7 linked regions of the Homo sapiens genome follow. The protein of the gene in region 7 interacts with the protein of the main gene of each other region in a pairwise test. Each region holds a gene or a part of one and is shown on either strand. Other genes may lie near its edges. The genes, in order: CRLF3, ZNF664-RFLNA, ITGB1BP2, GABPB2, SCAMP2, PHLDB2 and FLNA.

Evidence for each region.
Region 1: the proteins of FLNA (region 7) and CRLF3 interact in binary tests that used the Homo sapiens proteins (3 or more experiments, as listed by UniProt).
Region 2: the proteins of FLNA (region 7) and ZNF664-RFLNA interact in binary tests that used the Homo sapiens proteins (3 or more experiments, as listed by UniProt).
Region 3: the proteins of FLNA (region 7) and ITGB1BP2 interact in binary tests that used the Homo sapiens proteins (3 or more experiments, as listed by UniProt).
Region 4: the proteins of FLNA (region 7) and GABPB2 interact in binary tests that used the Homo sapiens proteins (3 or more experiments, as listed by UniProt).
Region 5: the proteins of FLNA (region 7) and SCAMP2 interact in binary tests that used the Homo sapiens proteins (3 or more experiments, as listed by UniProt).
Region 6: the proteins of FLNA (region 7) and PHLDB2 interact in binary tests that used the Homo sapiens proteins (3 or more experiments, as listed by UniProt).

The regions. Positions count from the first base shown.
Region 1 is NC_000017.11:30,790,193-30,793,692, reverse strand, and holds part of CRLF3 (cytokine receptor-like factor 3), read left to right. Parts: intron 1-20; coding exon 21-243; intron 244-862; exon of another isoform or gene 863-1,120; coding exon 1,121-1,253; exon of another isoform or gene 1,254-3,055; intron 3,056-3,500. UniProt on the Homo sapiens protein: May play a role in the negative regulation of cell cycle progression.
Region 2 is NC_000012.12:123,979,715-123,983,214, reverse strand, and holds part of ZNF664-RFLNA (refilin-A), read right to left. Parts: intron 1-3,500. UniProt on the Homo sapiens protein: Involved in the regulation of the perinuclear actin network and nuclear shape through interaction with filamins. Plays an essential role in actin cytoskeleton formation in developing cartilaginous cells.
Region 3 is NC_000023.11:71,300,369-71,304,549, reverse strand, and holds the start of ITGB1BP2 (integrin beta-1-binding protein 2), read right to left. Parts: upstream 2,801-4,181; 5' UTR 2,744-2,800; coding exon 2,680-2,743; intron 2,414-2,679; coding exon 2,364-2,413; intron 2,274-2,363; coding exon 2,217-2,273; intron 2,140-2,216; coding exon 1,994-2,139; intron 1,289-1,993; coding exon 1,194-1,288; intron 1,090-1,193; coding exon 1,034-1,089; intron 924-1,033; coding exon 853-923; intron 739-852; coding exon 639-738; intron 364-638; coding exon 250-363; intron 9-249; coding exon 1-8. UniProt on the Homo sapiens protein: May play a role during maturation and/or organization of muscles cells.
Region 4 is NC_000001.11:151,122,761-151,126,042, reverse strand, and holds the end of GABPB2 (GA-binding protein subunit beta-2), read right to left. Parts: 3' UTR 1,857-3,282; coding exon of another isoform or gene 1,728-1,856; 3' UTR 501-1,727; downstream 1-500. UniProt on the Homo sapiens protein: May function as transcription factor capable of interacting with purine rich repeats (GA repeats).
Region 5 is NC_000015.10:74,849,366-74,852,865, forward strand, and holds part of SCAMP2 (secretory carrier-associated membrane protein 2), read right to left. Parts: intron 2,822-3,500; coding exon 2,704-2,821; intron 2,117-2,703; coding exon 1,988-2,116; intron 1,309-1,987; coding exon 1,149-1,308; intron 1-1,148. UniProt on the Homo sapiens protein: Functions in post-Golgi recycling pathways. Acts as a recycling carrier to the cell surface.
Region 6 is NC_000003.12:111,886,765-111,890,264, reverse strand, and holds part of PHLDB2 (pleckstrin homology-like domain family B member 2), read right to left. Parts: intron 1-3,500. UniProt on the Homo sapiens protein: Seems to be involved in the assembly of the postsynaptic apparatus. May play a role in acetyl-choline receptor (AChR) aggregation in the postsynaptic membrane.
Region 7 is NC_000023.11:154,371,835-154,375,787, forward strand, and holds the start of FLNA (filamin-A), read right to left. Parts: upstream 2,801-3,953; 5' UTR 2,672-2,800; intron 1-2,671. UniProt on the Homo sapiens protein: Promotes orthogonal branching of actin filaments and links actin filaments to membrane glycoproteins. Anchors various transmembrane proteins to the actin cytoskeleton and serves as a scaffold for a wide range of cytoplasmic signaling proteins.

The sequences.
Region 1 (3,500 bases), on a different chromosome or scaffold from region 7:
CATAAAGCTTTTCTCCCTAGGTGGATGATGACTTTACAGCCCAAGATTACAGGCTCCAGTTTCGTAAATGTACTTCAAATCATTTTGAGGATGTATATGTAGGTTCTGAAACTGAATTCATAGTATTGCACATAGACCCCAACGTTGATTACCAGTTCAGAGTCTGCGCCCGAGGAGATGGCCGACAGGAGTGGAGTCCTTGGAGTGTCCCCCAGATAGGTCATTCCACATTGGTGCCTCATGGTATGCTGCTAACCTTTTCTCTCCTGAAGCCTAACTATATATTAGAATACCTGTATTCTGTGCTAAGGGCAGCACACTGACAACCAGCTATTCTAAGCATAGATCCTGAATTGATAAGAACAACATGCACCATGTCTTTTACTCAGATTACCTCATGTGATTTTTGTTTTCATCAGTTCTTCAGAGTCCAAAAAAAATGCTGGACAAGATTTTTAGCCTCATTGAAAACCAAAGATTGAAAATATTATGTAGGGCACTGATATTCCTTTTTATTCTTTTTTTTATATTTGAATGTTATTTAGTTAGTTTTTTTGAGACAAGGTCTCACTCTGTCGCCCAGGCTGGTGTGTGGTGGTGCAATCATGCAGCCTGACCTCTAGATCCTTCTGCCTCAGTCTCCCAAGTAGCTGGGACCACCTGCATGCACACCACACCTGGCTAATTTTTTATTTTTTTCTAGAGACTGGGTCTTGCTATGTTGCCCAGGCTGGTCTCAAATTCCTGGGCTCAAGCAATCCTCTTGCCTCGGCCTCCCAAAGTGCTGGGATTACAGGCGTGAGCCACCGCGCCTGGCCTATTAATTAGATTTTTATCAGGTTGGAATAAGTTCAAGCAATTATGCTTGTACAATGATTTTATTAGATAAGAGATAACACTTGTGTGATTTATTATGTCAAAATTATGCAGGAATATACTAAAATCTTTTGTAATTTGTGGGACTGATCATGATACCCTGTTAATGGAATCTTTTATTTTATTGAACTTGACCATGGCCCCTAAGAGTAGTCTCCCATTTCCATGTTTTATTTAACGTGTCTGTATTGAAGATATCCCTCAAGAGATTCTAACAGTTTTCAATATCTTTGCTTTGAAAAAGAGTGGACAGCTGGTTTTGAGGGGTACAGTCTGAGCAGTCGAAGAAATATAGCACTTCGGAACGATTCTGAATCATCGGGTGTTCTCTACTCCAGAGCTCCGACTTATTTCTGTGGGCAGACATTAACATTCAGGCAAGTAGATATTAAAACATCTCACCTGCCTCAGGAAGCAGAGTGAAGTGCATAGAGCATACATAAGCTTTGAATTCAAAACATCCTGAGTTTATTCCGTCATTTATAGGCAGTGTTACTGTGGGAAGGCTTCTTTATTTCCTGTAGCTGTAGTTTTCTCATCTGTATTCACAGGGTTATTACGTAGATTAACTGGGAAATGTATATAAAATGCTTGTTATTTAATATGTTTATATCTCTTTTCCTCTTGGTAAGTAGAGGTAAGTAGAGTATCTCTCAAAAGTCAATCTTAGGCTGGGCATAGTGGTTCACACCTGTAACCCCAGCACTTTGGTAGGCCGAGGCAGGTGGATCACCTGAGGTCGGGAGTTCGAGACCAACCTGAGCAACATGGAGAAACCCCATCTCTACTAAAAATACAAAATCAGCCGGGCATGGTGGCACATATGCCTGCAATCCCAGCTACTTGGGAGGCTGAGGCAGGAGAATTGCTTGAACCCAAGAGGCAGAGGTTGCAGTGAGCTGAGATCATGCCATTGCACTCCAGCCTGGGCAACAAGAGCGAAACTGTGTCTCAAACACACACACAAAATTAAAAAGTAAATCTTAAAAATTTAGAGGCCTGGCCAGGCACGGTGGCTCACACTTGTAATCCCAGCACTTTGGGAGGCTGAGGCGGGCGGATCACGAGGTCAGGAGATTGAGAACATCCTGGCTAACATGGTGAAACCCCATCTCTACTATAAATAAAAAAATTAGCCGGACATGGTGGTGGGTGTCTGTGGTCCCAGCTACTCGGGAGGCTGAGGCAGGAGAATGGCGTGAACCCGGGAGGCGGAGCTTGCAGTGAGCCGAGATCACGCCACTGCACTCCAGCCTGGGCGACACAGCAAGACTCCGTTTCAAAAAAAAAAAAAATTTTAGAGGCCAAGAGACTGGACGCAGTGGCTCACACTTGTAATCCCAGCACTTTGGGAGGCCGAGGCGGTTGGATCACTTGTGGTCAGGAGTTCGAGACCAGCCTGGTCAACCTGGTAAAACCCCATCTTTACTAAAAATACAAATATTAGGACAGGCGCAATGGCTCCCGCCTGTAATCCCAGCACTTCGGGAGGCTGAGGTGGGTGGATCACAAGGTTAGGAGATCAAGACACCACCCTGGCCAACATGGTGAAACCCCATCTTTACTAAAAATACAAAAATTAGCTGGATGTGGTAGTGCACACCTGTAATCCCAGCAACTAGGGAGAGTGAGGCAGGAGAATCACTTGAACCCGGGAGGCAAATGTTGCAGTGAGCCATTGCACTTCAGCCTGGCAACAGGGCAAGACCCGTCTCAAAAAGAAAAAAAAAATTAGCAGGGTGTGGTGGCACACACCTATAATCCCAGCCACTCAGGAGGCTGAGGCATGAGAATTGCTTGAGCCTGGGAGGCAGAGGTTACAGTGAGCTGAGATCGCGCCACTGTACTCCAGCCTGGGTGACTGAGCGAGACTCCGTCTCAAAAAAAAGAAAAAAAGCATAGGCCGGGCACTGTGGCTCATGCATATTATCCCAGCACTTTGGGAGGCCGAGGTGGGCAGATCACGAGGTCAGGAGATCGAGACCATCCTGGCCAACATAGTGAAACCTCGTCTCTACTAAAAATACTAAAAATTAGCTGGGTGTGGTGAGGTGCGCCTGTAGTCCCAGCTACTCGGGAGGCTGAAGCAGGAGAATCACTGGAAGCCTGGAGGCGGAGGTTGCAGTGAGCAGAGATCGTGCCACTGCACTCCAGCCTGGGAGACAGTGCAAGATTCCGTCTGGAAAAAAAAAAAAAAAAAAAAAAAAAAAGCAAAAAAATTTACTGGCCAAGAATTTGTTTTGTCCTTTGTGAATCATTAACAGCAAGTCTTTGTAAGAGACAACACTGTAAACATATTATGTATATGCTACTCTCTAAAGTAAAACTGAAAGCAAGCCTCCCCTACCACTAATTAATGTTGTTTCTCTACCCATTTCTTTCTGTAATGGAAAAGTTTCTTTTTTCTTGTTTTCATGTTATCTGAGATGTATTCTTTATAGTCATGTTTCTGAATAGCTCTTCGTAGAAACTAAAGACCAGTTTTGACTTAGAGAAGTAAAGTTTGCCTGATTTTCACCATACTCACCTTAGTGTAACAAGCTCTCCTCTAAGTTTTAAGTCTTGAGATGGGATTTTATTGTGAATGCTTGACCCAAGTTCCTTTTGTTCTCAGGCCCTTATTA
Region 2 (3,500 bases), on a different chromosome or scaffold from region 7:
CCACCTTGTGACTCTCCCACATGGATTAGCTGTAGCACAACTTGCTTGCTTTCTTTTTTTATTTTTTTGAGACAGGGTCTCGCTCTGTCACCCAGGCTGGAGTACAGTGGCGTGATCATGGCTCACTACAGCCCTGCCTTCCAGTGATGCTCCCACCTCAGCCTCTTAAGTAGCTGGAACCACAGGTGTGTGCCACCATGCCTGGCTAATTTTTGTATTTTTGGTAGAGACGGGGTTTTGCCATGTTGCCCAGGCTGGTCTCAAACTCCCAGCCTCAAGCCATCTGCCTGCCTTGGCCCCTCAAAGTGCTGGGATTACAGGCATGAGCCACCATGCCCAGTAGACACAACTTTCAACCTGGGCTGAAAGACTTCAATTTGCTAAATCTAAGATTCACTCCTGATCCCTTTATTACATCTCTAGGCCGTTTGAAACTACTGCTCCTGTCCATTCTTGAAACTTTCTAACTTCCAGGACGTCTCTCCTGAGTGTCCTCGTCTGCACTCCCTTCTAGCCAGTCCACCAGGCTCACACTAAATGAATCTGCTCCTGTAAGCGCTGCAACAGTAAAACCGATACGGTGAGCGTGGAACCCAAGCTAAGCCAATCAGATTGTCCTTCTAGAGAATTTGGAATTGGGAAGTGGGAAGTGGAAAGACTGGGTCTGTGATGTGAGCTGGCAGAAGTTAGAGTTTCAGAATGGCCTTCCAGAGTGACCACCTGGGGTCACGTGTTATTTACTGCCAAGCGAGAGAAGAGATTAGGGGGAGGGCAGGCACACATAGAAGCATAGGGCAGACACACAGTGAGCAGGAGAAGCCTGGGAGATGAAGGCAAAGAGCACAGCCACACTGACTGCCACCAACTTCCCAGCGACTGGGCCCCAACCTCTGATGAAGACATCTACCTTCCTCTCTAATGACTTCTGTTACCTTGGCAGGCACTTTCTCCGCTACCTTTTCTCCACTTGTCCTTCAAGGTACCCATGCTCCAGCCATACTATTAACAGCCAGGTGGGCACTCACACATGGATGAAAGGGCACCACTCTGCCTATTTCCTGGCCTGCCCCTACGTGGAAGGGACCAGTTTACCAAGATGAAGAGAAATCACTCCCAGAAGTCAGGTGTACTCTGACAACAGGATGACTGACAAAAGGACCACTAATGCCCAGAGGAACCTCCACCACCCACTCAGAGAGGCAAGAGTCTACCCAATGAACCCCAAAGACAATCATGGTATTATCTGAAGTCGAGGTCATGCAGTCTCAAATAATTCTATGTGAAAAATATCAATGGTCCAGTCTATCTAGACAGATATGCCCCAATTTACAGAAGTACAACTATATTGCAAGAAAAATTTACCATGTAGAAATATTGATTTTAATACCATAGCTATGTATAGTATCTAGTCATTCTTACAGCAAAACATGTGTACTGTAAAATTATTCTTTGTAAATCCTCTTCGTGACACACCTATGTGTCCTATAAGACCTTCAAACTCAAGTACATCCAAAACTGAATCAGTCACTTCCTCACCAAAGCCTACTATATTCCTGTCTTAATCTGTTTTCTATTGCTTACAAGAGAATACCTGAAACTGGATAATTTATGAAGAAATTTATCTCTTACAGTTATGGAGGCTGAAAAAGCCCAGGACCACATCTGGTGACAGCTCTCCTGCTGGTGGGGACTCTCCAAAGAGCCCTGAGCCGGCACAGGGCATCACACGATGAGAGGGGGCTGAGCATGTTAACATGCTGTCTCAGATCTCTTTTCTTTTTATAAAGCCCCCAGGTCCCCTCCCATGACAACCCATTAATCTATGAATGGCTCTGCCCTCATGAGCCAAACCTCTGAAAGGCCCCACCTCTCAACACTGTCACATTGGGGATTAAGTTTCAACATGAGTTTTGGAGGGGACAAATATTCAAACCATAGCCAATTCCCAACTATAGTAAATGAGTCCACTCTCCCCTCAATTGCCCAAGTCAATATCATTGACTTCCCCCCATCACAAAGGTCTAGCCACTCTCTTCCAAATACCTCTGGAAACTCTCCACTGTGTACCTGCATTGTCTCAACTTAACTCAAGCCACCATCATCTTCCCTGGAATTCTACAAAAGCCTCCAGTCTTGCTTCCCTCTAATCCATTATCTACTCTAATGTAACCTTCTAAAATGCAAAATGGATTGTTCTTACCCTACTCACAAGTTTTCAATGGGTCCCAATCATTTTCAGTGTAAATTCCAAATTTATTCATTGGCTTTAACCAAAAAAAAAAGTGCTCATGTCTATTTGCCATGTAGCTATCATGTCCCAGATATACTTTGTTAAATCAAATGTTCCATCATACATGTAATACAGGTACATGTAATCTTGGCAAATACAAAAAAGATTATTTAAATCACCCGACATCCTACCGAATTCCACAATTCTTAAGATTTCCATCTAATTTCTTCTACATATTTTTGCCATTCATAGGTTTTACTGGAAGGCTGCTGGGACTTTTTTTGGGGCGTTTTCATCATATCAGGTATACAATTGTGTATCCTGATTTCCTTCCACTTAACACTATCATAAGCATTTTAATATATTTTCTTCATAAACGTTTTTAATGGCAATGTTATTTGCCACTAAATATATGATATAGGGGATGTATCATAACCATTCTGCAAACTGTGCCCATAAATATAATTCTACAATATACATATTTTGTGCAGAAAGCTTTTCTCTGTATTTAAAAATATTCTTTTGATGGTTCCTAGACCATCAAGAAATGTAAATAATTTTAAGACTCTTGACACATATGGCCAATGTAACATAAGAGTGTGTCATTTTTACCACATCCTTTTAGGTACTAGGCACTGTATATTTTTGTCTAAATCTAGACCTTCATGAAATTGGTGAGAAATTGTAACATCTTCCTTACAAAAGTAAATGCCCATTGTAAAAAAAACTGAAGCAATGCAAACACATGTGATATGAAAAACCAGTCTCCCCTAGGCTTTTCCCATGAAGTAATCAGAATTAAATGTTTTCAGGTATTCTAGTCTTTTTCTAATTCTTATTCAGAATATATATATATACACACACTCACCCTTCATTATTTTGTTTTGTATCTTACAAAAAATGAGATTAAGCTTGCTTTTTTGGCTCAACAGTATATTCTAGACATCCATACAGGCTATGTCAGTACATACAAATCTACCTCTCTATATAAAAAACTAATAGGCTAGACATGGTGGCTCATGCCTGTAATCCCAACACTTTGGGAGGCCAAGGCGGGAGGATCACTTGAGGCCAGGAGTTCAAGACTGGCCTGGGTAACGTGGTGAGACTCCGTCTCTACAAAAAAAATTTAAAAATCAGCCAGGTGTAGTGGTGTGTGTGTGTGTGTGTGGTCCCAGCTACTTGAGAGGCTGAGGCAGATCACTTGAGCCCAGGAGGCTGAGGCTACACTGAACCACATTCCGTACCACTGCACTCCAGCCTAGGCAAC
Region 3 (4,181 bases), about 83 Mb from region 7:
ACATGAAGCTGAGAGAAAAGAATTACAGGGGTAGTAACAAACCCAGAAGGTCAGAATAGGTCATTACGACAGATAACCAGGTCAGAGGTATGATCCACAGGTTGGCCAGACAGCCCTGACCTAATAACTCTCCTTTCCTCTAAGGGTACTATGGAGCCTACAGGTTAACAGCAAATGGCAACTCTGCCTGTGAGATTGTAGTATCACCCAATTGACTATCCTCCCATCCAACATCAGATCATTGCTCACCTCAGTTTGACTGGCCTTCACCCAGTTAAACGCAGGAAGTGGAATCTGGCCATATACAGTCACCACTACTAAGGAATCTGTCTGGTGCCAATCATGGCGGCAAGATGCTGGGAGCTAAAGAGAAGATGTGAAATGCAGGTGGTAAGAATAAATTCTTAACTGAAGGGGAGTTCTCATGATGCACGTGGAGAAGAGACAGAGAGTCTCAAAAAGATTAACACAACCTCATATTGCAAAACCTCTGGGCTGTTGAGGGATAAGGAGCAGAATCTTATTTGGTCTATACTAAAGGGAGAAGACAGGGAGCTTGGCTATGTGGTACAGAGAGGGAGGAGAATTTACCTCTGAGATTGGGTTCTAATCAAGAGTTCAGGAAAGCTGGGGCTTACCTGCTTCCCCCAGTCATGTCTACCGACTCTGCACCCTGGTTGTGCCAAGAATGCCCCAAAATCCAGGGTCTGGATGCCACAACAGCTCCAAGACTTCATCCTGAAGTAGGAAGATAATTCAACTGAATTCTCTCACCCCCAATATTATCTTATGACCAAATATTAGGAGAAACCTGTCTCATAGCCTCATAGCCCACCCAGTCCCCTCCCTCACCCCTCATGGAATCGGGGTGCTCCTGGGTGGTAGGTACATGGAGTAGCATCACTCTCAGGGCCTTGGTAAACCTAAGAAGGATAAAGTAGAACCAGGTCATTCTAAGGTATATCCTACTCAGCCTATCTATACCCAGTCATCCCTCAGCCATATGCTTGAGCCCCTCAAAACTCTCACTCACAGCATCACATCCTGGGTTCTGGCAGCTGGAACCAGTCCGGATCAGACTGTCAAGTCCTGGGCAAGGGAAACAGAGTCAGGAACTTATCCATCCCCCCACTCAATTGCCACTTCCACTAAATTCCAGTCTATGAAGTTGATCCTACTAAAGACCCACCTACCTGCCCCAGGTTCCTGGTCTAATTCCTTCTGTTCCAATGCCATTTCCAGGGCTTGGGATATATTTAGCGGCAGCAGCTTCAGAGGCAACTCTGACCTAGGGGTTAAGGGTGGTGATTTAGTTCTGACCCATTAGCTATGATTGCTAGCTCCAACACTCCCACCGATGGTAATGGAATTAAAGAAGCCTGGTGAAAGTGAGGCAGAGTTGGAGAGGTTGGGTAGCAACCCCATTGCCAATTTTCATCTCTGTGGACATCCCAAATACCTGAACCCTAGAGAAATCCCCAGCACTTCTCTTACCCATCTACTCAGTTGCTCTAAACCTAACCACTTTTCTCTGCAGAACTGAGTCATATCCTCTTCCTCTTTATCTAATCGTGGACCTAATATGACTTCCTTCTGTTGCTCTTATTATTCCCACAAAATTTGGGAAGTCTCCTGGCTGCCAATAATACAATACATCCTTTTCTTGATATGAGATTTATCTTAAAGTTCTTTTCTAGAAAGAGAAGTCATTCTCAACAATCCCTTTTGTGTTATACACTAAGGATGTATTTGTGAGGGGCTATCTACTCTGTTGATTCAGGTATCTATCCCATCATCCCACACCACCTTAGAGGAAAGGGCGTTATTTCCAGACACAAATTTCCCCTAAGGCACAGGATATACACCATCCAAACCCTGACATCTGGCCCTCCTCACATCCCTGGTCCCTAGTTCCCAGTCCTCAATGACCCATTAATCACTCCTAGGAAGCTACATGAAAATAAGAAAAGTCCAGGGGCCTCCTCCTCTTTACTTGGGCCTCTCCCGGCGCAAGGTCTCTGCTGACTTTGGAATCACATTCAGAGGTTTTTGCTCCTGAAGTGAACTGCTTGTAGCAGGGCCTTCAGGTTGAGGGGCCTCAGGAAGCTTCTCAGCACAGTGTGGTCCCATAGTACAGCCCTAGTATAGATAAGGAGATAGGATTAGGGATAGAATCCTTCTATTGGGGGCAGAATCCAAGTACATAAATAATTTACCTTGATGTTTAAGAACTCAGAGAAATCTACAGTTCGCTTTCGGCAGCAGGACCAACCCTGATAACAAGAGACCCAGATCAGCTTAGCTTCCTGGGTATTATCTCTTCTGGGAAATGCTCTTGCTAACCCCCCTCACCTACTCCTCACCTTAAGTGCATCATGGAAGATTGGGACCCCAGGGTGATGGCAACAGGAATCTGTGGACATCAGTAGAAGTTATCAAGGAAGGGAAGATAACTATACCAAGTATCATTTTTCACCTCTTCCCCGGGTTTCTATTTATGGTTTCTTCCCATATAATGTGAAGAAAAAAAAAAAAGCCAGCAAAGGCTGTAAGATCACTCAGACCAATTAAACTAGGGCAGGTAGTTTCTTTCCCCGCTCCTCAAACACACTGCCCCCCAGCTGACCAGTCCCCAACACCCACACAGAGCCCCTGGCCAGGTCAGGATTCTTTACTCACCAGGAAGGTTGGTATTAGGGTCAAAGTGCTGCCCACAGCCTTTGTTACGACAGAGTAGAGACATGGAAGCGTTGGTTGAATGATTACTGAAAGGGTATTTCAAGGAGTCTGGCTGCCGAATGGGGAACACCTCTTAGTCTGGAGGCTTTTAGCTGCCTGGAAGGGCCAGCTGTTTCTATCTTTAGTTCAGGAGGCGTACACCTCCTAACATGGGCAAGGGAACTTCAATTCGTCTTTCCAGCCAATAGGAAAGAGCTCGGGGGCATTTTAGCTCTGAGGCTCAGGAAAAAAGGATCAGGCAGAGTAGGGCTTTGAACTTGGGTGAGGTCAGCTCACCACTACTGAGACAGTTTTAGATTCACCACAGCAATTCCAAGCCTTGGACACAGCAGCAGCTGCTAAGAAACAAATACCAATTTTGAGACCCCCCCCGCGCCCCCAGCTCGATGAGGATTAAGCCCATTTTCTTCCTCTTTCAGAGGGGCAGCTTTCCTCCATCATTACTTCCATGTAGTATCAATAGCGCTAATCCTTGCCAACCCCTCCAGCCATTTGATGCACCTCATCCCCACCTCCTCCCCATGTTTGTCTAGATCAATACTGTAATCCAAAGGTCATAAAGGATTACCTTTATAGAGTCTACTGCTCATCTCCTAAGATAACTCCCCTCCCTCCTTTCCCCTTCAAAAACACCACAGAAAATTAAAAGGCTTAAAATGTATTTTAATAGGTTGATGCTGCATTACTGCTCCATTTTTCAGAAAAACTCCAAATATATGAGACAAATCAAACACAGTACACCAATGAAAAAAAAAATGCACAGCATGACTACCTAAGATAGGCGAGTCTAAGAGCTACTGTCAGACCTTCAGTATACAGTAACCCTGTTCCCAAGATTGTACTAGGCCTATCAAGAAAAGCTGTGAACAGCAACATCATAGACACAAAAGGGTCATTCCTGGGTGTCCTCACCCAAGAAAAAGATGGAGGCAAGTTAACACAAGATTTTTTTTTAAAGATACACTAAAATGAAAATCTCTAAGAGAAAATGTCTTCTTTAGGACATGAAGGGGTAATATATGGGGTATAACAGAACCGTATGTACGCTGCCTGTGACCTTTGTGGACGTTTGCCTGAATTCTCACCTGGGAGTGAATGGAGCAATGGGGCTAAGGTCATTGGGGGATGTTTGGTTTTTGTGGTGTATGTGGCAGTTTCTCTGGGGCTGGGGGAGTGTAAGGATAAGAAGCAAGTGAGGTTGGGCACGGTGGCTCACCCCTGTAATCCCAGCATTTTGGGAGGCCGAGGTGGGTAGATCACGAGGTCAGGAGTTCAAGATCAACCTGGACAAGCTTGAACCCGGGAGGCAGAGATTGCAGTGAGCCGAGATCATGCCACTACACTCCAGCCTGGGCGACAGAGTAAGACTCCGTCTCGGGGGCGGGGCAAGCAAATGAAACAAGATGGACAAAAAAAAAAAAAACCGGAATGATCAAGATTAA
Region 4 (3,282 bases), on a different chromosome or scaffold from region 7:
GGCTGAGAGCGGTGGATAAGGAAAAGGCAATGGCCATGCATGGGTTAGTAGATCTATACCCCTCCCCCTTCAGTTAGCTCAGTTGGACAGGGAAAATGAGCTCTGTGGTTCACCTGTCATTAGAGAATAGATACAAATTTGGCCGGGCTCGGTGGCTCACGCCTGTAATCCCAGCACTTTGGGAGGCCGAGGCGGGCGGATCACGAGGTCAGGAGATCGAGACCATCCCGGCTAAAACGGTGAAACCCCGTCTCTACTAAAAATACAAAAAAATTAGCCGGACGTAGTGGCGGGCGCCTGTAGTCCCAGCTACTTGGGAGGCTGACGCAGGAGAATGGCGTGAACCCGGGAGGCGGAGCTTGCAGTGAGCCGAGATCCCGCCACTGCACTCCAGCCTGGGCGACAGAGCGAGACTCCGTCTCAAAAAAAAAAAAAAAAAAGAGAATAGATACAAATTTTGCCCAGGAGATGAAAACAAATTCAATGACACCCTGAAATGGTCGGCTTTGACATTTTATTGAGAAACATTTTTATTTTAAATGATAGTACAAAAACTGTATATATAATATAGATCTGTATAAGTATATATACATACAAATGCTCATACACACATATACACACAAACTTGCTCATCAGAATAAAACCCTAAATAAAGAAGTATATTTAAGTTTTTCTAAAAATACGCTGTACATAAAGCTGTCAGACAACCTGAAAAACTGAGGACATTGTGAGAACAGTCTGGGCGCATCCCCCCACACACACACCTGCCGCAGTACACACACAAATGGCCTTGACAGAAGGACAGCACATGGGGCAAGGTCAGGGAGAGAGCTGCTACCATCATTGTTGCTAGAACAAGATGTCTAAAGCCAACTAGAAAGCACAGGATATAGAAGGTGACCTAGATTAACTTTCAGAAACAAACCACCTCAGAATAAACAAAAAATATGTGGTAGGGAAGGAGGGGAACGGAGAGAGAAAAGACAAGGCCCAGAGATTAGAAATGACCTACTAACTAAATTCGAATGCCTGGGAAAGCCTCAATGAGATAGGAACAATGGAATCACAAAAGCAGAAAAGGTAGGAGGAGGGGGAGATAGGGAATCACAATTTCCTGTCACTAACATGCCAAACTGCTACTGTAGAGTCTAGGAATGTCACCTCACCCCCTAATACTAAAGAGGCTAAAAAATAAGACAAAAATTTAAAAAGGGCAGCATCAGAGACTTAAAAAAAATTGGCATAGGAAATAATAGTACTACTCAGAAGGGGTAGTACTTCTGAGATATAGTCACCACATAAAATAGAGACAGATAAGAGCCTAGAGTGCATACAGGTGGTCATCACATATAGTCCATTCTGAAGTTCCTTTTCTAGCTATCCAGAGATGGGTTTGCACAAGGAGTAGAGAAGAGGAAGCCTTCTCTAATAAATTAGGACAAAAACTGATTCCCACTCCATATTAAACTTTCAGGAAGAGTTCAGTAAATGCATCAAATTTTCCAGCTCTGGAGGTCTGTAATGATAGGAGAGAGCCACACAAGCTTTCTTAAAATGGTCATCATCATACTGGTGAGAAAAAAAAAAAAAAAAAGAGGCTGGGCGTGGTGGCTCACACCTGTAATCCCAGCACTTTGGGAGGCCAAGGAGGGTGGATCACGAGGTCAGGAGTTCGAGACCAGCCTGGCCAATATGGTGAAATCCCGTCTGTACTAAAAATACAAAAATTAGCGCGTGCCTGTAATCCCAGCTACTTCAGAGGCTGAGGCAGAAGAATCGCTTGAACCCGGGAGACAGAGGTTGCAATGAGCCAAGATCATGCCACTGCGCTCCAGCCTGGGTGACAGAGAGAGACTCTGTTTAAAAAAAAAAAAAGAAAAGAAAAAAGAAAAAAAAATCATTTCTCAAACTGATATTTCTTTTTTTCCTTTTTCTTTCTTTTTTTTTTTTTTGTGAGCCACCGCGCCCGGCCTCTTTTTTTTTTTTTTTTTTCTCACCAGTATGATGATGCGCCACCACCCCCGGCTAATTTTTGTATTTTTAGTAGAGACTGAGTTTCACCACGCTGGCCTGGCCTCAAGTGATCCTCCCATCTCGGCCTCCCAAAGTGCTGGGATTACAGGCGTGAGCCACCATGTCTGGCCAGCAGCTTTACTTATTTTATTTTATTTTATTTTATTTTATTTTTTGAGACCGAGTCTCATTCTGTTGCCCAGGCGATCTGTTGCAGTGGGGCGATCTCAGCTCACTGCAAGCTCTGCCTCCTGGGTTCACGTCATTCTCCTGCCTCAGCCTCCCGAGTAGCTGGGACTACAGGCACCCACCACCACGCCCGGCTAATTTTTTGTATTTTTAGTAGGGCCAGGGTTTCACTGTGTTAGCCAGGATGGTCTCAATCTCCTGACCTCGTGATCCACCTGCCTTGGCCTCCCAAAGTGCTGAGGTTACAGGCGTGAGCCACTGTGCCCGGCCAGCAGCTTTATTTTAAAGTAGACAACCATCCTAAGCTCGAAGTTTCTCTTGCTCAAGCACCAATTCTGATCCATTTGTCTGTTTTTTCTTTCTTTCCTTCTTTTTTTTTTTTTTTTGAGACAGAGTCTCGCTCTATTGCCCAGGCTGGAGTGCAGTGGCACAATCTCAGCTCACTGTAAACTCCACCTTTTGGGTTCAAGCAATTCTCCTGTTTCAGCCTCCAGAGTAGCTGGGACTACAGGCGTATGCCATCATGCCCAACTAATTTTTGTATTTTGGTAGAGACAGGGTTTTGCCATGTCGGCCAGGCTGGTCTCGAACTCCTCACCTCAAGTGATCTACCCACCTCAGCCTCTCAAAGTGCTGGGATTACAGGCGTGAGCCACCGTGCCCAGCCATTTTTGTCTGCTATTTGATTCTTAATAATCCAACCTTGCCAATAAACAGTTGGAATCCTCTAACCCAGAAGATCTAAGCAATATTTCCCCAACTTCCATGACTAATCCAGAAAGATATGCAAAGTCATGAAATGGTATTGCCATTAATGTATTCAATATTTAATTTCTAACTACTTCAAAGCATCCTCACCTGCCATTCTCTCCATGGCAATACAATTGGAGATCAAATCCTATTTCCCTTATCTGGGATGCCAAGAGGACCGTTCCGAGTAAATAAAAATCAATGCCTTTTTCTTACTTATTTTCAGATACCTCCATTCTCTCCCTCTCTACCCTAGCCTCTCCTCTAACAAACTGCCCTATCTCAGAGACCCATCATAAAAAATGACTTGGCCTGTATTAGAGATTTTGG
Region 5 (3,500 bases), on a different chromosome or scaffold from region 7:
TGAACCTGGGAGGCGGAGGTTGCAGTGAGCCGAGACTGCGCCATTGCACTCCAGCCTGGGTAACAGACTGAGATTCTGTCTCAAAAAAACAAAACAGGCTGGGCACGGTGGTTCACACTCGTAATCCCAGCACTTTGGGAGGCCGAGACAGGTGGATCACTTGAGGTCACAAGTTCAAGACCAGCCTGGCCAACATGGGGAAACCCCATCGCTACTAAAAATACAAAAATTAGCCAGGTGTGATTGTGTGTGCCTGTAAGCCCAGCTACTCCGGAGGCTGAGGCAGGAGAATCATTTGAACCCAGGAGGAGGAGGTTGCAGTGAGCCGAGATCGCATCATTGCACTCCAGCCTGGGTGACAGAGCGAGACTCCCTCTCAAAACAAAAACAATAGAACTTGAGGATACGTGGTAACAAAGAACAATGAGAAAAAAACAAAACCTGTACATCTGACTGGAAGAAAAAAATATTTGGGAAACAGGGGACACCAGACAAAACTCTCTCACGAGCTGAGGACTTCCATCTCTGTGTCCTTGAGGGCTAGATCACAGTGAGGGTTCAGGGCCTCCAGTGGTACAGGGATGGTTCAGCCACTACCCTAATCCCTCTTCCCAGGGCCTGCTGGGCTCCCAGCCCTGAAAGCATAAACCCTGAGGTACAATTCCAGAACCCCTGGGGGTCTGTAAGGTGTATCCAGCTATGTTCCCAGTATCTAGCTTAGGTGTTGGCAGTCTTTATTGGGAAGCATCAATAGTCATGGAGAAAGAGCCCTGGAGAGCACTCATCTGATACTACCAGAGAAGCACACCTTAGAGCCTCAGAAGGGAGTTCCCAAAGAGCGTCCCCTCCCTCTTCCCAGTAACGGCATCAGCCAGACTGGGAGCAGTGGGATGGGAGGTCCCTTCTCTAGGTCTCCTGTGCCTGGTCCAAGGACAGGGCCCAGAGCAGACCTCAGGTACAGAAACTGAGGAACGGGGCCCCCAATCTCTGCTCTGGGTGGGAACAGAGGAACAGAATGTAGGGAAAGTGGATTTCCCTACATTCTATTCTGCTCTAAGACTCAGATGGGGTCCCAGGGCCTATAGCCCTTAGCCTGCTACCTGGGATGCCAGCCATAAAGTCTCACCCCTTGCCCCGGCCTCACTCACCTAAAGGCCTTATAGATGGGTCGGTACCAACAAAGGAAGGCACAGGGAGTGAAGATCAGAAACCACAGGATGGAGAGGCCAAAGTCCACTCCCTTGGAGCTGTTGCCCGAGAACCAGGCCAGGCAGGCAAGCAGGTTCAGAAACAGAGTCACTGAATGCACTGGGGAAGGGGACAGGACAGAGTTATGACTTGTGCCACAGTGGCTGAGGGGCTCCAATGTGGCAGCCACTCCCTAGGAGAGGTGAGGTTCATGCTGCGAAGGCAGCTGCTGAAACAGAGGAGCCCGCTCTGTACCTAGGCAGGGATAGTTCCCATATCCTGGTTTTCTGGGACCTCAAAACCAGGGATCAAACTACGTTCCTGAGAGGTGATGGGACAGCCCGGGTATCTGAGGGGTGTGGAGGGAGGATGCAGACCCAGGGCTGGTCCTTGGGGAAGGAAGTCTTTCTCTTAGCAATGCTTTTCCCTGGCCCTGGATGGCCCCTGATGGAGCTGCAGGGGGAGTCTCCTTCCTCACCCCTCAGAGTTCACAGGCCTGTGGGCAGGGAAGGCCTTCACCTAAGGAGGGCCTTTTAGTGCAGTGAGCTCTGAAGGAACTTGGAAGCCTCTAGTTAGTCCCACCCTCCCTGATCGGTGGTCTGGACTGCCCCTTTCAAGGAGGTTTCCAGACAGGGGGCAGCCTGTGGGCAGAGGCATCTCCCCAACCCAGCCCAGGCACTGAGGAAGGCTGGAGTCTGCTGAAAGCCTGTATACCAGGGAGGAGCAGCCAGGACCAAGATGGGGCTCTCAAGTCACACCCAATTCGCCCTTGCGCTTGGAAGGCAGGAGTGGGACTCACACATCCACAGATAGTAGAGCATCTTGCATATCCGCTGGTAGTCGGCAGGGATCTCTGTGGAGAAATCCTGATAGAAGCAGGGCTTCACAGGGCACCACGAGGGCAGAGGGGGCCAGTTGTTCTGTCTCACTGGGTAGGGCAAAAAGAGTGACGAGGTAAGGGCCCAGCCTCAGAAGGGGCATCAAGGTGCATGCACGCCAGCATAGTGTATGGGCCAAACCAGGGTTCCCAGAGGGGCTCCAGCAAGCGGGGCTTGGAGTCTGCATGGAGCATGGAGTGGGACAGAACAGGATAATGGAACCCAAAGAGATACCAACAAGCTCACATGGAGATAAAAGACCCCAAATGCACTGGGAAATACAGACAGCTAAATGGCCTAAGTGATTATTTTTATTAACAAGCAGCCCATAAGTGTGAGAACTCAGTTCATCATCATTAGCAAGGAATTGTGGGACCAAAGCCCCTATGCTATCAAAGAATCAAGGAATTTGAGAGCTAGGAAGGAGTGCAGAAGTAATCTACAGCCATTACAACTACACTGCAGGTCTCCTGACTTGCAACTTACTGCTCTTCCCAGGACCAGCATCCTGTGATGAGAAGAGCCCCACAAAACTCTAAGGCAGCTCAGGGTGAATGCTGGGAGGCCCTCCGCACAGGTTTCAGGACACTCTTCTATGCCAGGCAGGGCAGCCCCAGGCCCCAGCAGCCTCCCTTACCATGCAAGTTGGCTACAGTGTTCTGCAGCTCCCGCTCCTTGCGTTCCAGCTCGGCAGCTTTCCTGTCCAGTTCTTCCTGCTGCCGGAGCAGGCCTGCCTGGGCTGCAGACACCACGGCCTGGAGAGAACAGGGGAGGTACAGGGACAGCCAGACACAACAAACAGAAACAGTGTCAGCCTGGGTAGGCAGGCAGAGAGGCCTTGCCCCAGGCAGGGACAGCCATCAAGGAGTCCCAGAAGCAGTCCCCGCCCCACAGAGTGTCTTAGGTACCAGAGACCACCTTAGAGAGGCCAACCTGTCTTCCACTGCCCCCACACCTTCCTGACCCCTTGGCCATGACTAAGCTGTCCTCTCCCCTCATCCCTAAGCTTGAGTTGGGAAAACTACCCCCATTGGCTTCTCCACCTCTTCCCCATACTGGGTCAAGGCAGCGCTCAGTGATTGTGACCTTTGGGAAAAAGACCTCACAAGAAACTAAACTATAATAAGAAACCCACAGACCCAAGCCTCATTTGAAGAGCCTGGTGGATGTGTGAGAAGGAAAACAGTGCAAGCCTGCTAACAGTGAGTGGAAAGGGGAGACACGTGAAGGCAGATGGCGTGTGCCTGAGCCTCAGGATCTGTACAAGCACCCTGCCCCATGGCCTGCCCCCAGGAGCTGCCTCCTGAGGTCCCCCTAAACTGCAATTGGCTACACCCCAGGACAGCCCCTTAGGTGTGGCCCTGCCCTGCCTGGCTTTAGTGGCATGCAGAGTCCACACTTATCTCCTCTCCAGGCGGGGTAGAGCCTCTGAGT
Region 6 (3,500 bases), on a different chromosome or scaffold from region 7:
GGCCAAGTTTCACTGGGGTTTTGGTTTGCATACAACTGACAGTTATCTCCATTGGTGGCAGCCATGACTAGGAATCTGGTTTCACGATCTGACCACGTGGTGAGTTGACAGGTAGAATCGGAATCCAGTCTTGGTCAGGTGAGAGGTGACAGAGTATTTGTTTGTTGTTGTTGTTGTTTATAATTTGTTTTTCTATTTGTGTACTCAGATCAGGAATATATTTTGTGCCTGATGGAAAAGCAATCAGTCTTTTGAGATCTGGAAAAGTGAGATTTTGTGTTCTAGTGTTCACTTTTGATCTGTAATTGGAGCTGTAGGACTTAAGCCATAAACCTTTCATCTGTCTTTCTACCTGGGGGCAGGGTGGGGAACACTGTTTGTAGGTGAAGTATTTTTCTAACTCCCGAGGATAATAATAAATTAAACAGAGAAGGCCTACTGTTCTGATTGGTTTATAGAGATTATCAAGTAGTTAGATAAATTTAACATTCCCAGAATTTCAAGAATTTATTTTCTTGAAATAAATTTTGTGAAATTCCAATGCTTTAAATGTGCTTATTTTAATGATGGGGTCTCACTCTGCCACCTGGGCTGGAGTTCAGTGGCATGATCATGGCTCATTGCAGCCTCAATCTCCTGAGCTCAATCAATACTGCCACCTCAGCCTCCCAAGTAGCTGGGACTACAGGTGTGCACCACCACACCCAGCTAATTTTTGTATTTTTTGTAGAGACAGGGTTTTGCCATGTTGCCCGGGCTGGTCTCAAATTCCTGGACTCAAGTGATCCTCCCACCTTGGCCTCCCAAAGTGCTGGGATTACAAGTGTAAGCCACCTCACCCAGCCTAACTGTGCTCTCTTAAAAAAAAAAAGACCTGATTTGATAATTTGGTTTTAAAAACAGCTATAGGGACACATGTTGTCAGGATCTCCTGGGGCTGTGTCATGGGTAAATACAACTTTTAAGAAAAAAATACATTTTAAAAACAACAACAAAACAGCTACACATCTTTTCCTTGTTTCATCAGTGTACAGTATAATACAAGTATAATCTCATTTTTTAAAAAAACTTGAATGTTTTATGATGAAGAGATTAGTTTACCTGAACTTTTAAACTGTCTTATATTAGTTTGCTAAAAACATAAGCTAAGATTACTTCTATAAAATTAAGAAAAATATAAACTTTGTGCTCATCTAAACTGAACTATAACTGTGACAAACCTTTTCACATTATCAGTAATTATGTTCTGTGATGTGTTAGCTTGAACATAATTTCTGATACCTTTAAGTATTTTTGTCTTAGTGTCTGGTTGTTCCAGAATGTGGAAGAGAACAATGAAGGGCAGAAGTTGATGGAAACAGAAAATTGCAGATTTGCAAAAAGGGAGTTAGATTTAACTTGGTTTATAATGCTTGCAAATAAAAAGGCTATAAAGAAGTAATAAAATTTTAAAAATTTGGCAAAGTTTGCATGATTTTGATGCAATTATTCATAAAGTATGTTTAATGTAATGCATTAAAAATGTAATATATGACAAGCACCCTGTTAATGTAAAACTAAAATGCAGTTATCTCTATTGAAATGACAGACTGATCTTGGAGAAATCAGCCTATGCTTGTAAAAGGCAGTACTAATCTGCCCACAGAACAGAGATTAGTACCTTACAAGTGTAACTTCCTGAGCTTTGCGATGATTGGAATATATTCTTGCAAAGAGTTTTCTTCATTTTTGAATGATTTGAGCTTTCTTGCTCATCATAAAATAATCTATTGCCATTTTCTTAAATAGCCAAACCACAAACATTCACTACTCTCAGGTATACACAATTCTTTATTACTCAAGTGACAAAATCTCTGATTTTGCCTTCAAGATCAGGCAGACCCTAAATACAGAAAAAAAATATAATTTCCAAGATATCTATTCCTGAACTACTTTTAGGTTTTCCCAGAGAACCTCTGGGCAATCACAAAGATTTGTCTTTAATTTTACAAAAAGAAAGAGGCTAGAAATAATTAGGTTTGTTCACTGTGCCCCTAAAAATTTCTCAAATCAAATGAGAAAGTTGCCCTTCCTTAAGATAATTTTGTACGGGTAAAATAATATTTTTAATATTATAGGTAATGTTCAAAGATTGGGTACTTTACACAAAGACCCTGAATATATGTCAGTGCCCTCACTCTCTGTAATATGTTCTTAAAAAACTGATTTAAAGGATTTTAACTCTCCTTCATGCTGATATTGTTTGTTAAATTAACCATAAATAACCATAGCCACTTAACTCTTACATTCACCAAGTGTTCTCTACTTTCTCTGTGAGCTTGTCTACAAAATACAATATCTCATTAATGAAGAAAAGACAGTTTTAGAACCTTGTGGACAGAACTTTACCAGGTATTCTTAACCCTAAATATTTCAAAGAATTGCATAGACAAAAATGAGATAGTACTAGGCAGCCACATCAGATTTTCAGGACTTTTTAGTCTAGAAATAGATGACTTCATGAAACCAAATTAAGAGCCTAAGATACAGAGGAATAAGAATTAATTACATAGAAGTGATTGAATTGATAATAAAAAATGAATTTCTAAATGTGGATATATGTTTTGGAATATTACTAGTATTATTTTTAATGTTTTATTTTTTCAGGGGGAAAACCCTTTGGCATTCATACTGCTCTATCTCTAATCCTCTATTCAGCTAACTCTGATTTTGCAAACTAAATGAAATATTATTTTAATGGTAAATTGTTCTCACTGATCTCTCAGAATTCAGGAAGTAATTTGAGTCACTTTACTTTTTAATGGCAATATCATCTTTTGCATAGGCTTGATAAGAATCCGTCATCCCTTTTACCACAATGTAGTCAAACAAATAGACCATGCAACCAAGATCAAGTCTAGAGTGTCAAATTTAAAAATAAGCCTCATTTCAACAAATACGATACGCCCACTATTAAAGAAAAAATATATAACTTCATATTTAGAGCAATATCCACAAAGCTCTCCCAAGAAGTCAAAACTGTTTATGACTTAACAGGCCCAACCTTACAGGCAGTACAGAAGGTCACTTCCTGGATTGCCAAGAACCATACCAGATTTGGAAAATCTGGAGGAAAGAGAAATTCACCAACACTTAGAGATGCTGAACATGAAACCTAGCAGAGATGAATTTCTTGAATTTGGTTCCCTATCCTTGGAACAGAAGAGCAAATAGAAGCATTTAAGGAAGATGTCCGGAGTAATGGAAGCCATTAAAAATGCTCTCCCAGATTTCTTGATAAGTTATCGGATAGAAGTTAATATTCTGGCTTTATAAATAATAGTTGCTCTGCATGGTATAGCATTCTATTTGCTGTCCATATACAAGACTTTTGTATGCTAATTAAAACATCTTCTGAATTTCTGTCAATGAAGCAAGCCCAAACACAATGCCATTTTGTGACCATGAACAGTCTGCAGAGATTATTTATGGTAATAAAGAGGAAAGTCATACTGAGTACT
Region 7 (3,953 bases):
CATCCCCGTCCGCCGGCCCGGCAGCGGCGGGAAGGGGCCAACCCTAAGAGCGAACCCCTGGAGAGCGGCAGCCCCGGACCAGGCACTGCCGAGGGCGCTTTGTGTGCTCATCACCTGGGAAGCGGCTGCAGGGCAAGGCCTGCGCCTACGCGGTCCCCGCAGACCCCCTGCCACGGGCCCGCCTTCCCAGTCCGTAGGGCCCTCGCCCGCGCACCTGTGCCCGCTGCTTCCCACCGCCTCCCTCTCTGCTTCCCTCCACCCGGGAGGATATGGGGCACTGGGCCAGGAGGCCGCCGGCACTCCAGGAGCAAGCAGCCTTCGAAGGGGTCCGGGCATGCCCACGGGCACGCCAGTGGGCGCGGGCAGAGGGCGCCGTGCGATGCATGCAGAGACGTGTGCCCGCCTAACCCTTCATGCCAGTTCACCCGGGGCACTGGGGGGAGCTGAAGCGGGGGGTCCTCTCCTGTCGGAAAGTCCCCTCAGCCCAGCGTGGCCAGGGCAGGGGGCAAACACGGGAGTGGCATTCCAGACCCAGAGGGGCCTGCTCAGAGGTTCCCATAAGACTTGTCAGGCTCTGAGCACCTGGGTCTGGGTGGGCTTCAGGTGTGGTGGCAGGTGCAGAGGAGGCCTGAGGACAGGGATCAGGGGCCTGGGGGGTTGTGTCCCCAGAGCTGTGGGGGCTCTTCACTCAAAATTTTCTGGTAGATAACTCTGGAGATGGTGCAGTGGCTGCTGTGCCGAGATGTAGACTGGGACCAGGGGACGGCTGGGGACGCTCACTGCTACTATCTTCAGTCAGAAGCCAGCCTGCCTATGGCTTCCTCCCCATTGTGCACTCCCCTCCCTCTCAGTCCTCGGTACCTCCCCTCTCCAGAATGTTTCCTCCTCTGAGTGTTTTTTTTTTTTTTCTAGGAAGGCAGGTATCTGTCCCTCCTGTTCAATTCTAGTAATAATTAATTTATCTGCTAAAGACCAGTGAGAGATGGAGGCCCTGGGTTGGCCAGCACGTCATGCCCAAATATGGTTGACTCTCCTGTAGCCCTGGGTGTCTACATGACACGTGGTGGGGCTGTGATCCGCCCAGCACATTCACTTCGGGGCAGCCTGTGGCCCCACTGGTTTTTCCCACTAGTAGTGGTGTTAGGGGGTGCAAATGGCATTTTCCAGTACTGAGGCCAACCCCTGTATATTGTCCCCTCTCCTGACCACTTTGAGACACACCTGCACCAAGTGCGCCTGGGCGTCTGGGAGCTGGGGTGGAGGTGGGAGGGAGGGCTGGGAAGGGGGAACCCATACAGACCCCTCCCTGCACGGGCCCCATTCAAGACGGGCTTGAAGTTGTCCTTCTGGTCCCCCTGCCCCACTGGAAAGCAAGTTCCCAGGCACGGAATTCCATCAATAATTGACTCTCTCTCCACTAAGGGCCATTGAGCTGGGTTGTCTGGGTTCATTCCTTAATCTTCAGAGCTCAGGGAAACTGAGTCAGAGTGACCAGTGGTCAATTCCAGCAGAAAGAGTGTCAGGAGGTGGGTGCCGTGTCTTCCAGCCCTAGCTTTTCCCTATTTAGAGGAAACAAGGAATGGGCGTGTAGAGGGTTCTTGTCCCTAGAACATAGTATCAACCGCCAGATGTCGCCCGATCCCAAAGCCACCAGATCGGGCAGTCCTGGGAAGCCAAAATCCAGCTCTTTCATATTTTCCCTTATTTGGAGTAGATTCTTGGATGTTAGGCACACCCCGCCCACCACACCACCCCTGGCCCTCAGACCCCAGGCCAGACCCTCCCACTGGGAGGTATAGCCCAAGCCCAGGAGCTGTTCAGCTGGGATCCCTAAGGAGCTGTTTCCAGGCCTGCGTAGCCAGGGGGCGCAGGAGGGAAGGAAGCCGCAGACTGGCAAGGTGAGAAGAGACCTGTGCTGGCAAGTCCAGGTGCGGCAGGTGAGGTCGCCCATTCCCAAGCTCCCACCTTGACGGTGCACTCGGAGCACTTACAAATGGGTCTGCCAGTGGATTTTAACCTATTTTGCCTGGCCCCAGGTGGCACGGGAATCTGGGGACATTGTTGGTTATATCCTGGCTGGCAGTGCGCATCCAACTCAGAGCCAACCTGGCATAGGGCCCAGGGCCCAACCAAGGAACCTGGCCTGGTCTCATCCTCACCATGGCCCCCATGGAGTAGAGCAGCCCCAGAACCAGCTCCCCTGTGCCCAAAGCAGCTGGTGCCCTGTGGACTCGAGCCAGCAAGGGACACGCTGTCCCCCTCCCAGTGGGCACACTGGCTGAGAAGTGTCCTTCCAGGTGGCCACTCGCCCTGAGTCCACACAAGTTCCTGGTGTCAGGGCCCTTCTCTCTCAGGCATGCAGTGGTCCGTTCATGGGCAAGTGCCCAGACACCCTCTCTCTCTCGGGGACCCCCCATGGCCTCAGGCTCCCACATTCGTGGGCACAGACATGGCTCGTGGGTCAACTAGGGAAGCTATTCTCTGGACACTCACTCCCAGATGCCAGGGGAGCCTCCATCGGCTCACGCATCCCAGCTGAACCTGGCCCGGACCTGGGCGCGAGCTGGCGCCTGCGTTTTCCGGCCTCTCTGCCCGCCTTCTCCAACCCCGCCCCCGGCCGACGAGGAGCGCGGCGACCCTACGGCGCGAAGCCGGGCCGCGGAGACCTCACCTGCTGTTCCTGAGAGCGACCGGTGACCGATGACCGCGGGGTGGCGCCCGGATCGCCTTCGCGCCCGCGCCCGCGCCAGGCGCCTCGGGGATTCTGTCGGCGTCCGCTGCGCGCGACGCGCCTCCACGCGAATGGGCCGCCGCCGCCCGCCTTCTTGTTGGCCGCACCCCCGCCCCGCGCCCGCCCCGCGCCCGGCCCGGCCCGGCGAGAAAGCCTTAATTGGTAAAATTGCCCAGGAGCCCGGGACGGGTGCGTGGGGGGCGGGGGTGCGGGGGCACGCCGTGAGCTCCAGCGACCCGCCGCCGGGCGACGCCGCCCCCCGAGATGAGCTCACCGCCGGCGAGGGCCGCCAGGCCCTGGGGGAGGGAGGGCTTCGTGGGGGAGTCGCCTCCAGCGCCCACAGGGACTGCAGGGCTCGTGTCTAGGCCCAATCACAAGGATCCTGCGTGTCTGAGTCTGGGGGAGCCAAGCGCACCCCAGGTGGAAAGGCCGAGGCCCAAGGCCACCTTCTCCAAGGAGCCACCCACAGTCACAGCCCCTGGTGTCTGTCCCAAGCCGGGATTGTTTCCTGGGGTGGGGGCAACAGGTCGTTGCAGGTGTTGGCTGGGCGCCTACGTCAGGCAGGGCCCCGGGACGGGACTGCAGGGCTCCGAGCCCTGGGATGAACCTGACTGCCATGGATCAGGCGCTGCCAGGTCTGGCCTGGGGTGGGCAGCAGAAACAGGATCGCTCAGGGGGACGAGAAAGTTAAGTTTGTTTAGTATTAAGAAGATTCTGATCTTAAAGAAAACATTGGCCGGGCATGGTGGCTCATGCCTATAATCCTAGCACTGTGGGAAGCTGAGGCAGGTGGATTAATTGAGCCCGGGAGTTTGAGACCAACCTGGGCAACACAGCAAGACACTATCTCTACCAAAAATATAAAAATTAGCTGGGCGTGGTGACGTGCACCGGTAGTCTCAGCTGCTCAGGAGACAGATGGGAGGATCGTTTAAGCCCGGGAGTTTGAGGCTGCAGTGAGCTATAATTTCACCACTACACTCCAGCCTGGGTCACACAGTGAAACCCTGTCACTAAACATAAAAAAAAAGGCCAGGTGCGGTGGTTCATGCCTGTAATCCCAGCACTTTGGGAGGCCGAAGTGGGTGGATCACGAGGTCAGGAGTTCAAGAACAGCCTGGCCAAGATGGTGAAACCCCGTCTCTACTAAAAATATAAAAACTAGCCGGGCGCAGTGGCAGGCGCCTGTAATCCCAGCTACTCGGGAGGCTGAGGCGGGAAA